Homo sapiens: one gene and its partners. The protein of the gene in region 3 purifies or fractionates together with the protein of the main gene of each other region. This does not show direct contact. Each region holds a gene or a part of one and is shown on either strand. Other genes may lie near its edges.

Region 1 (3,651 bases), on a different chromosome or scaffold from region 3:
GAATCGTTTGAACCTGGGAGGCGGTGGTTGTAGTGAGCTGAGATCAACCCACTGCACTCTAGCCTGTGTGACAAAGCAAGACACCGTCTCCAAAAAATACAAACAAACAACAACAACAAAAAAACCCCACAAATTTACGGCAAGAAACTTTACAGATCTTTTGCATTAAAAGGTTGATCTCTATCAAGGGGAAATAGGCAAAATGCTGATGTGAGTGTATTCCATTCTCTGCCCTCTTCTCCCTCCCTGTCAAACAAGAGAATCATTTGAGTATATGCTCCTCTTGCTTTTTCTTAAGAGCGGGAGCAGGGGACAGGCAATGCTGTGGTGTCAGGTGGACCTAGATTTAAGTCCCCATTATTCTACCTAGTCTCTATGTGACTTTGGAAAAATTAAAAGTCAGGGAATCTTGGTGGCAAAATAAACTGGAATGTGATTCTTGGTGAGTGTCTTCACTGTCATTCTACAAGGACAGACCAGACTAGATATTTAATACATAGTGAGAATCTTTTCACTGTGTCAGAGGCATATCTGGTTTTCCATATGCATATGCCTCTGACACAATGAAAATTTAGCAGTGAAGTGTAAATTGCCCATTGCTAGTCTGACATGGCAGCCCAGAACTCCAGTGCACAGCATCTAATAATCCTGAACTCATTGGCTATAATGCACCATTGTCATCTACAGACAATAACGGGTTTTTTGTTTTTAAACTGTAGCTGTGTCAGCGTGTTATGATGCCGTCCCGTACCAACCTGGCTACTGGAATCCCCAGTAGTAAAGTGAAATATTCAAGGCTCTCCAGCACAGACGATGGCTACATTGACCTTCAGGTAAATGCAGAAGAGAACTGACAAGACTGACTGGCTGTGTTTCTGTTAAGTTAGCAGGAAGACCTTCCAGATGGAGATTTTGCTAACTGTCCTTGGGGATTAGAAGGAGCAACAAGAAGAAAACTCAGCTCTGAGACCCTTTCAGCCATAATCGCAGAAGAGGGCCGTGGCAGGGTAGTTTCAAACCAATTCCAGTATTGTCCATTTCTAAGAATTTTTAGTTGTAATGCGAGAGCCTTGTAGTTACAGGTTTTATTTACTTTATTCAGAAACTAATCAGATTGTGTTTTGTTAAGTGGAGTTTTTTGTTGTTGTTTCTTTTTTTAAGGAACTTTAAAATTTTTGTTAGGTGGAATTTTTTTTATCACTGTTTATTTACACTTTAGTCAAAGCCCGTTCACCTTTTAAGGGAGAAACTTATTACTAAAGCCAGCAGATTGTGGGAATCTTCCTTCTTTCCTGATGTCATGAGATCCAATTTATTAAAGGTATTCTTTGTGATAAATAGTAAGTAAAACACAGTATTTATTAAGTTTGTATCCTACCCTAACCATTTATAAACTAGTCAATACTACAGCATCTCCTTTTGCACACTTCCCCTTACAATAGAATGTTCTACGTGGAACTAGGGCCAACGAGGAAGTAGCAGGAAACCATCCTTTATAAATAAATAAATTACTCTTTGGACCCACATTTGAAGGAGAGATAAAAATAGATCTGGAAAGATCTGGGAAGCTTCCAGCCACTTAGGTCAGATACAACGATGAGCCAAACCTTGGAAAATTTGTCTCTGAATCTTAACCTTGAATTGAATTTGTTCATAAGGCAGGTTTACTTGCTATGTGGAACAAACAACTAATCATTTGGAATAAGCTGAAATTGCCTTCTTTTCCTTTTTTTTTTTTTTTTTTGGAGACGGAGTTTTAGTCTTGTTTCCCAGGCTGGAGTGCAGTGGCACAACCTCGGCTCACTGCAACCTCTGCCTCCCAGGTTCAAGCGATTCTCCTGCCTCAGCCTCCCAAGTAGCTGGGATTACGGGCATGCGCCACCACGCCCAGCTAATTTTGTATTTTTAGTAGAGACAGTGTTTCTCCATGTTGGTCAGGCTGGTCTTGAACTCCTGACCTCAGGTGATCATCCTGCCTCGGCCTCGCAAAGTGCTGGGATTATAGGCGTGAGCCACCTTGCCCAGCCTCTTGTTTTGTTTTGTTTTGTTTTTAAGATGTAGTCTTGCTCTGTTGCCCAGGCTGGACTGCAGTGGTGCAATCCTGGCTCACTGCAACCTCCCCCTCCTGGTTCAAGTGATTCTTGTACCTCAGCCTCCCTAGTAGCTGGGGGATTACAGGCATGCACCACCATGCCTGGCCAATTTTCGTATTTTTAGTATAGATGGGGTTTCGCCATGTTGGCCAGGCTGGTCTCGAACTCTTAACCTCCAGTGATTCACCCACTTCGGCCTCCCAAAGCGCTGGAATTACAGGCGTGAGTCACCGCGCCCAGCCTTTTTTTTTTTTTTTTGAGACAGGGTCTTGCTCTTTTGCCCAGGCTTGGGTACAGTGGCACAATCAAGACTCACTGTAACCTTGACCTTCTGGGCTCAAGTAGTCTTTTCACCTCAGCCTCCTGAATAGCTGGGACCACAAGCATGTGCCACCACACCCAGCTAATTTTAAAATTTTTTGTAGAGACAGGATCTCTTAAATCCCCATAAGTTAGTACAGCCATCTATGTGCCAGGCAGTTAATAAATATATATCTAACAAATGAATGACTGTAAAGTCATTTCTGTTTTTGTTTTAAAGAAAAGTTTCTTATGATACAATGAATGATTTATGGAATGAGATTCGAACTAGAGTGAATGACATTCCTCTGAGATTCCTTTGAGTAACTGTGAGAGCAATAACTAGAGCTTCATCTCTTGCCAGTCCCTTTTATTTCTCAGAGCTGCACTGGGTGGTAGGACATACTTAAGACACATAAAGTATCTAGTTTGGTTCTTAATTACCCTCCTGTTTTTGCTGTTGTTGTATTTGAAACAGGCTCTGGCTCTGTCACCCAGGCTGGAGTGCAGTGGTGCAATCTCAGCTCGCTGCCTCTTCACCTCCTGGGCTCAAGCCATCCTCCCAGCTTAGCGTCCCAAGTAGCCGGGACTGCAGGCACATGCCACCACGCCCGGCTAATTTTTGTATTTTTTGTAGAGACGAGGTTTCACCATGTTGCTCAGGCTGGTCTCAAACTCCTGAACTCAAGTGATCCGCCTGCCTCAGCCTCCCACATTGCTGGGATTACAGGTGCGAGCTCTCCTCCCTGTTTTAAAGTGTTTGAGACTGGGCTTGATGGCTTATACCTGTAATCCCAGCACTTTGGGAGGCAGAGGTGGAAGGACTCCCTTGAGCCCAGGAGTTGGAGACCACCCTGGGCAACATAGTGAGACCTCGTCTCTACAGAAAAATTTAAAAATTAGCTGGGCATGGTGACGTATACTTGTAGTCCCAGCTACTTGAGAGGATGAGGCAAGAGAATTGCTTGAGCCCAGGAGTTCGAGGCTGCAATGAGCTGTAATTGCACCACTGCACTCCAGCCTGGGTGATAGAGCAAGACTCCGTCTCTAAAATCATAAAAATTAGGCCGGGCGCGGTGGCTCACGCCTGTAATGCCAGCACTTTGGGAGGCCGAGGCGGGCGGATCACCTGAGGTCAGGAGTTCAAGCCCAGCCAGGTCAACAAGGTGAAACCCTGTCTCTACTAAAAATACCAAAAAAATTAGCTGGGTGTAGTGGCGGGCACCTGTAACCCCAGCTGCTCAGGAGGCTGAGACAG
Region 2 (3,651 bases), on a different chromosome or scaffold from region 3:
AAAATACAAAAATTAGCCGGGCGTGGTGGCACACACCTGTAATCCCAGCTACTTGGGAGGCTGAGGCAGGAGAATTGCTTGAACCCGGGAGGTGGAGGTTACAGTAAGCCAAGATCACACCACTGCACTCCAGCCTGAGCAACAGAGCGAGACTCCGTCTCAAAAAGTAAAATAAAATAACATAAAGTAAAATAACAGGGATCTGCTATGGCCTCAGATTTAAGGGGGAAACATTCACCTTATTGGCAACATAGCCTTTGCTTTGAGTAATCGTGGCAACCTGGGAATAGCTTTGTGAATTTATGAAGTGGAATTTCAGGCAGAAAAATGCCCAGGCACTGCTACTGCCCAGCAGACAGGGTGGGAGGGCTGGCAGATTTCCTTTTAATCTGCTTTAAAGCTTCAAAGAGATTCTGTCTGTAGGAAGTTTCAGCTGTACCTGGGCAGTTTCCTGACTTGGACCTCAACCACTCCAAAACACCCAAGAGGAAGCCATTAGGAACAGACTGAAAGAATCAAGCTCTTTCTCTTCGATGCTCATCTGACCCGCAGGAGCTTACAACCCGCATGTTTAAAGGCATGGTTTTCCAGAACAAGTCTTGGTTCACTGGGTCAGGCCCTACACACCCCGAGAGCATCAGCTGGCACTGGAATCAGGAAGGGTGACCCTGTATCCCCCGAAATGCAGCCACTTAGTGACTCCGAAAGGCCACTGAGCAAAGGCAGGAGCCCTGCACTGGGAGAAGGGATTTGCCTATGGCTAGAGGTTGAGTTTTCCCACTGCAGAATTCCATCTATTAGAACACCAAACTTGGCTTTATTATGATTATGGATATTATTATAAATAATAAGGAGCTGATTTGATACATGCAGCAAGCTTGGCATGGAAACATTGCAAAACAGGAAAAGAGGGTAACAGCGGACTCTGGCCCACCTTCCCAGTCTGTGCTGGGTACAGACGGCACTGCTGGAAACACATCTCCAAAATCATAATCTACAAAAACGAGGGACAAAACTGAAGATTAGAAACACAGGCAGTGGAAGGATGACTGGAGGGAGGGGAGGGGAAATGGGGTGGGAGACATGGGGAGAAAATAGGAGAGGAAAACTTCAACTTTCTACATTGTATCCAACAACCTTGGGGAAACTTACTAGGGCCCTGACTGCCTCTCAGCTCAGGCGCTGGCCCAGGAGCCTCCAACCAGCTGGAAAGACCTGTCAGGGTGACCCCTTTCCACATCCAGAAGCTGGTTCTGGCAGAGAGAAGCCTGGCTGCCTGTGCCTAGCTTTGTTTTCTACCTCTTACGTGCCTTCCCTCCATACCCTAGCAGGGCAAGGAGACACTGCCCTGGCAGCTGCAGTTGCACAATCTCCAAATTGCTGAGGGGACACCTCCATCCATGGATCCATCCTTGCCCTGGCTCTTCCGGCAAGGCCCACCCCTCCAACTCCTCTAAGGTGGCCCATGGGCCCAACCTAAGGAGACTGTGCCGCCTTCTTCAGCTTGCACGGTCAGCAATGCAGGTCTTGCTAACAGCAAGTTTGAGAGGGACCTCCCTTCCTGGGACATATAACCCGTGGTACAGCAGAAATAAAGAAAGGGGAAGGTCAAGGTCTCAATGCTGAGGCAATTCTAGGGTGCCCCAGGGCTAAATTGGGGCTGGGATCCCCTTCCCTGGAGGTGAGGTGGTGGGGTGAAGTAAATGAAGGGCTCTGGTCTCCTACAGGAGATAAAGAGGGGAAAATGGCCAGTTTTATCCATGAACACCAGGGCCTAAGGTTTGAAAGAAACCAGGCTGTTCCAGTAAATCATTGGGTCAAGACAACAAAATGACCTGCAGCTTCTTCCTCGGTCCCTGATGCAAAGGGTGCGACCATCCCAAACACATCAGCGAGCGCAGAAGGAACTCAGAGAAATCGGACGGACACACAGGACACAGTGGCAAGGTTTCCCTGCGCTTCAGACCTGCCTGGTTCTCTCTTCTTCTAGGGGTTGCTTAACCTCCTTCTGCAAAGAATGTGGGGTCAGACAAGCTCCCCAGAACAGGCAACACTCAACCCTGCGACAAGGTTTCCAGGTCCCACTGCTAAACCTTCCTTGCTTAGAAAACTGCCACAGGCATGTGACTAGAACCTTCTGGAAAAGGGTCTAACCTTAAAAAATATATATTTTATATATATATATATATATATAATTTCAGCTTTTTGTGCCCAGAATCCACTTTTTAGCCACCACAGGGACTCTGAGGAGATGAAGATCTGGGAAATGGCCAGCCCTGTTTAATTGCAAATTTCAGCCACCAGACCAAAACTAGCCAAGGAAGACATCACCCAGCCAGGCTTAAGCAGTTCAAGTCTGTTTCACAACAGGGGCTTAGCTTTTCTGCCCTGGGGCCACTCACCCTCACTAGATGGGGCAATCGCACTGTCATCCCACTCCAGGTTGGTGGAGGTGACGGAGTTGAAAGAGTTGAGGGACAGACTGTCTGAGCCGTGGACCGAGCTGGGAAGGCGGTCTTCAAAGTCCAGCAGGTACTGAGGTTTGTAGTAGTCGGGCATGTAGGGGGCCAGGTCTAGGTAAGGGGCATCCTGAGGAGAGAGTAGAGGAGGCCCGTTTGGTGGGAGGCCTCGTGCAGCGGCCTTCTGCAGACAGCAGGATCCAGGCCTGGGAGACACAGATGTGCCTCTTTGGGAAATCAATGGCTTAAGGTAGTAAATTCAAAGAAAAGCTGCTAAGAAGAGCAATGTGAATAGTGTTGGCTTTTAAAGCTGTGGACTTCAGGCTGATGGAAGACAGAGCTGTCAGAACTCAGCTACACCCTTTGATGCCCCCGCTATCTCTCTCTCTCTCTATTTATTTATTTTTTTTTTTGAGACAGAGTCTCACTCTGTTGCCCTGGCTGGAGTGCAATGACGTGGCTCGGCTCACTGCAACTTCCACCTCCCGGGTTCGAGCGATTCTCCTGCCTCAGCCTCCCAAGTAGCTGAGATTATAGGCGCCCATCACCACACCCCGCTAACTTTTGTATTTTTTTAGTAGAGACGAGGTTTCGCCATGTTGGCCAGGCTGGTCTCGAACTCCTGACCTCAGGTGATCCACCCACCTCAGCCTCCCAAAGTGCTGGGATTATAGGTGTGAGCCACTGCGCCTGGCCCAAGGAAGGTCATTTGATTAGGACGGGGCAGCTGCATCCATTTTGAGCCCAGTCCAAGAGGTGCCTGGGAGCCTCTTTGGCTCTATGTGGGCCAGCATCCCATTTGTACAGGGTGTGATGGGGAGAGAAACTTGAGAACTTGAAGAGGGTGGCTGAAGGCTCTTCATGGAGCTGATGACACTTTTCAGAACCCCAGAAGCACCAGGCTGAAACTGCCTTGTCCTTCTAACTCTTCACATCCTAAACATGAAGGCCAGTTCTTCTGGGCTAAGATACTCCAGGCAATGTGGCTTTTCTCCAAGTTGGATAGGGAGATAGGAAAAAGTCACCTGAACCAGGAATTCTTGCCATCACTTCTCTTCTCACTCAATTCGATGGACCCTGAAACCTTTCCCTCGCCCAAAAAAACAAGTTTTGCTCAAGCCCAGTCATACTCAACAAGCTCCCTCAACAAGACCTGAGAAATGAAGCCACCGCCCACCCTGCCCCCACCCTG
Region 3 (3,651 bases):
GAGGATTGCTTGAGCCAAGAAGTTTGAGGTTATAGTGAGCTATAATGGCTACTGCATTCCAGCCTGAGTGACAGAGTGAGACCCTATCTTAAAAAAGGTTAACTTAAATGAGAAGCGTTCTTAGTTTGATAAAATAGTCACTTTTTTTTTTTTTTCCTGAGACAGAGTCTCACTCTATCACCCAGGTTGGAGTATAGTGATGTGATCTCAGCTCACTGCAACCTTTGTCTCCTGGATTCAAGCAATTCTTGTGCCTCAGCCTCCCAAGTAGCTGGGATTTCAGGTGTGTGCCACCACACCCAGCTAATTTTTGTATTTCTAGTAGAGACGGGGTTTCACCATGTTGGCCAGGCTGGTCTTGAACTCCTGAGCTCAAGCAATCCTCCTGCCTCAGCCTCCCAAAGTGCTGGGACTACAGGCATAAGCCACCGTGCCTGGCCAATAGTCACATTTTTTTCTATTCATCTTTTACATTTGAGTAGATCTACCTTAGACATGTGATAGCATTTTGGTGTCTTTAAAAATACTCATTTATTCCTCATTTCTTTGGTAATATTGTCTCTGTAATTCCCTGACATTTGACAAGAAGTCTTAGAAGGGGTGATTTCCTATGGATATGAAAATAGCTTTGCGTTACAGCAAACTAAAAATTAGTCACACTGAAGAAACTAACAATATATGTTTGTGTCCTTGTTTTAGGTGGATTATGTATTTACAGATAAGACTGGAACACTCACTGAAAACAGCATGGAATTCATTGAATGCTGCATAGATGGCCACAAATATAAAGGTGTAACTCAAGAGGTTGATGGATTATCTCAAACTGATGGAACTTTAACATATTTTGACAAAGTAGATAAGGTGCATTTGCATTATTGTTTTATATAAGAAACCAATCTGTGTATGCATGTTAACATTCCATAGTAGAAAATAATTTTTAGGTGGACACATGACATAGACTTTTGTGTTTTTGTTTTTTTTTTTTGAGATGGAGTCTCACTCTGTTGCCCAGGCTGGAGTACGGTGGCATGATCTCAGCTCACTGCAACCTCCGCTTCCCAGGTTCAAGCGATTCTCCTGCCTCAGCCTCCCGAGTAGCTGGGATTACAGGCGCCTGCCACCATGCCTGGCTAATTTTTTTGTATTTTTAGTAGAAACGGAGTTTCACCATGTTGGTCAGGCTGGTCTCAAACTCCTGACCTCAGGTAATCCACCACCCTCCGTCCCCCAAAGTGCTGGGATTACAGGCATGAGCCACTGTGCCCAGTGACTTTAGAATAACTATTGTTGGATTCACCTTTCTTGTTTTACTGACACTTCTGAAATTTGTAAATGAGTAGAATTTACAAGTAAAGAGAATTGTGGGAAATGACATTTGGGTAAAAGCTTGCTTGTCTGTATGATCATAATTTTTTGTGCTTTGTCTTTTAAAATGTAAGCTCCTCCAAGAATGATGTCTGTTCAAATGATTAAAGTCTCAGGAGTGTCTAGGCATTAAATTAACCAGAGTCTCCCTACACTTGAGCTATTGCTAGATTGTGAATTAGATACTGAATGAAGTTTTTTAGGCCATGAAGAAGTCACTGCTTTGGCTTAGGTGGTGCCACAATAACCTTAATGAGTTAACACAGCCTATAGGGTATGCTAGCTGAGAACCAGGAACTCTTATTAGGTACTAGGAGAATATATAGCAGATTTGAGTGTTAAGAATTTATACGTATCTGCTACTAAGTTTGTTAGAAGTTACAACATTCTCTCACATTAATATATTTTCTCCGTTCACTGCCTAGTTACCGGGTGATCAAATTAAAAATAATAATCATTATTTTGTTGCTGTTCCACAGAATCGAGAAGAGCTGTTTCTACGTGCCTTGTGTTTATGTCATACTGTAGAAATCAAAACAAACGATGCTGTTGATGGAGCTACAGAATCAGCTGAATTAACCTATATCTCCTCTTCACCAGATGAAATAGCTTTGGTGAAAGGAGCTAAAAGGTAAAGTATACTTTCTTATACTTCTCCTAAGAAAGTGAAATCACAGGAGGACAGAAGTTATTTGTTTTTTTCCGTTTGCTTCAGTGACCTTAGCACATACATCTCCTATTATTTAATAAAAAACACAACTGCTTTAGCCAAAAATTTGTGGAAAATTCCCACACCTAACCAGTTAAGACTAAAAAGAAAATAGTTACAGGTAGGTATTACTTGCCTTACTATTTATGCATGCCAGCCAGAAGTCTGAATGTTCATACTATGTTTTGCAAATAACATAACAGTGGCCACTTTTTGTACAACACATGTTATTTCTGAGGTGCTCCCAGCAATTTTGACATCATTTGAGAACCGAAAGTCCAGTTTTACCCATGAGGTTCAAGATAATTAAGTGGCTCAAAGGTCACCCAGTGTGTTAGCCGTAGAATCAGAAACCCAAATTGTCTCTCCCTTGGTTACAATAATTGTGGCTGGGCATTGACTTTCTCTGTTATCAACTTATCCAGGAAAAGAAAGTACAGTTATATGTTGAGATCATATGAAAGAGAAGAAAAGCATAAACAAGCATGAGTTACCCCATTGAAAGTAATCATTCTAGACCAGGTGCGGTGGCTCACGCCTGTAATCCCAGCACTTTGGGAGGCCAAGGCGGGTGGATCACCTGAGGTCAGGAGTTCAAGACCAGCCTGGCCAACATGGTGAAACTCTGTCTCTACTAAAAATACAAAAATCAGCCGGGTGTGGTGACACACACCTGTAATCTCAGCTACTCAGGAGGTTGAGGCAGGAGAATCGCTTGAAACTGGGAGGTGAAGGTTGCAGTGAGCCGAGATCGCGCCACTGCACTCCAGCCTGGGCAACAGAGCGAGACTCTGTCTCAAAAAAAATAATAATAAAAAAATTAATCATTCTTTAGAGATACACAAGGTCTTTTTTATTGTTTTTGATAGGTACGGGTTCACATTTTTAGGAAATCGAAATGGATATATGAGAGTAGAGAACCAAAGAAAAGAAATAGAAGAGTAAGTAGCTCTGTGTTTGATGTTTGTCATTTCTTAACCCCATAGTCAAATTTAAGTGGATTCAGGCAGGGCAGCAAAGGAAATGATGCCACTAAAAATACAGGACCCTGCTCTCCCAGTTCAGAGTTTTATGTAAATATAGTTGGGGTAGAAGCCATGTTACATAGAATTGCAGAAACTGGAGTTTGAGGTGGAAATTCCAATCTGGTTCACATCTGGGTCCAGTAGCCAGAATGAGAGTTTGCCTGGAATGTTTCTCAAATTTAGATGCCATTTCAGGTCTCTAACACATGCTACAGGAAAAATCAGTGAATATATGTGAAACCTTCTGCTATCTAGTGTCCAAGCAATCACTCTGGGATTGCAAGCCCAGGCAATAAAGGCAGCTTTGCTGTAAACCAGAAGCCTTGTTTGGTTCGGAATGTTCAGGTGTGAGCCTCGGGGCAAGTACTCTGATGCTCCAGTGTCTTCACATTTCCTCTTTTGCCACAAAGACCCTAATGAACAAAGCCACCTTATCTTAATGGTGGATTTTAATTAGGCTCTGTGATTAATTTGAATTTCCTCATCTGAACTTGAAATATAATTATGTTATCTGACTTTCATTCTGGCCCCTAGGATCTCCTGAGACCCATC

The links.
Region 1: the proteins of ATP11C (region 3) and TMEM230 purify together in Homo sapiens (affinity purification with mass spectrometry; one large-scale study listed by BioGRID and IntAct). This does not show direct contact.
Region 2: the proteins of ATP11C (region 3) and PLEKHM2 fractionate together in Homo sapiens (co-fractionation; one large-scale study listed by BioGRID). This does not show direct contact.

What each region holds. Positions count from the first base shown.
Region 1 is NC_000020.11:5,106,514-5,110,164, reverse strand, and holds part of TMEM230 (transmembrane protein 230), read left to right. Parts: intron 1-719; coding exon of another isoform or gene 720-734; coding exon 735-833; intron 834-3,651.
Region 2 is NC_000001.11:15,718,672-15,722,322, reverse strand, and holds part of PLEKHM2 (pleckstrin homology domain-containing family M member 2), read right to left. Parts: intron 2,590-3,651; coding exon 2,403-2,589; intron 1,987-2,402; exon of another isoform or gene 1,879-1,986; coding exon of another isoform or gene 1,836-1,878; intron 995-1,835; coding exon 935-994; intron 1-934. UniProt on the Homo sapiens protein: Plays a role in lysosomes movement and localization at the cell periphery acting as an effector of ARL8B.
Region 3 is NC_000023.11:139,786,537-139,790,187, reverse strand, and holds part of ATP11C (phospholipid-transporting ATPase IG), read left to right. Parts: intron 1-699; coding exon 700-861; intron 862-1,844; coding exon 1,845-1,996; intron 1,997-2,943; coding exon 2,944-3,015; intron 3,016-3,651. UniProt on the Homo sapiens protein: Catalytic component of a P4-ATPase flippase complex which catalyzes the hydrolysis of ATP coupled to the transport of aminophospholipids, phosphatidylserines (PS) and phosphatidylethanolamines (PE), from the outer to the inner leaflet of the plasma membrane.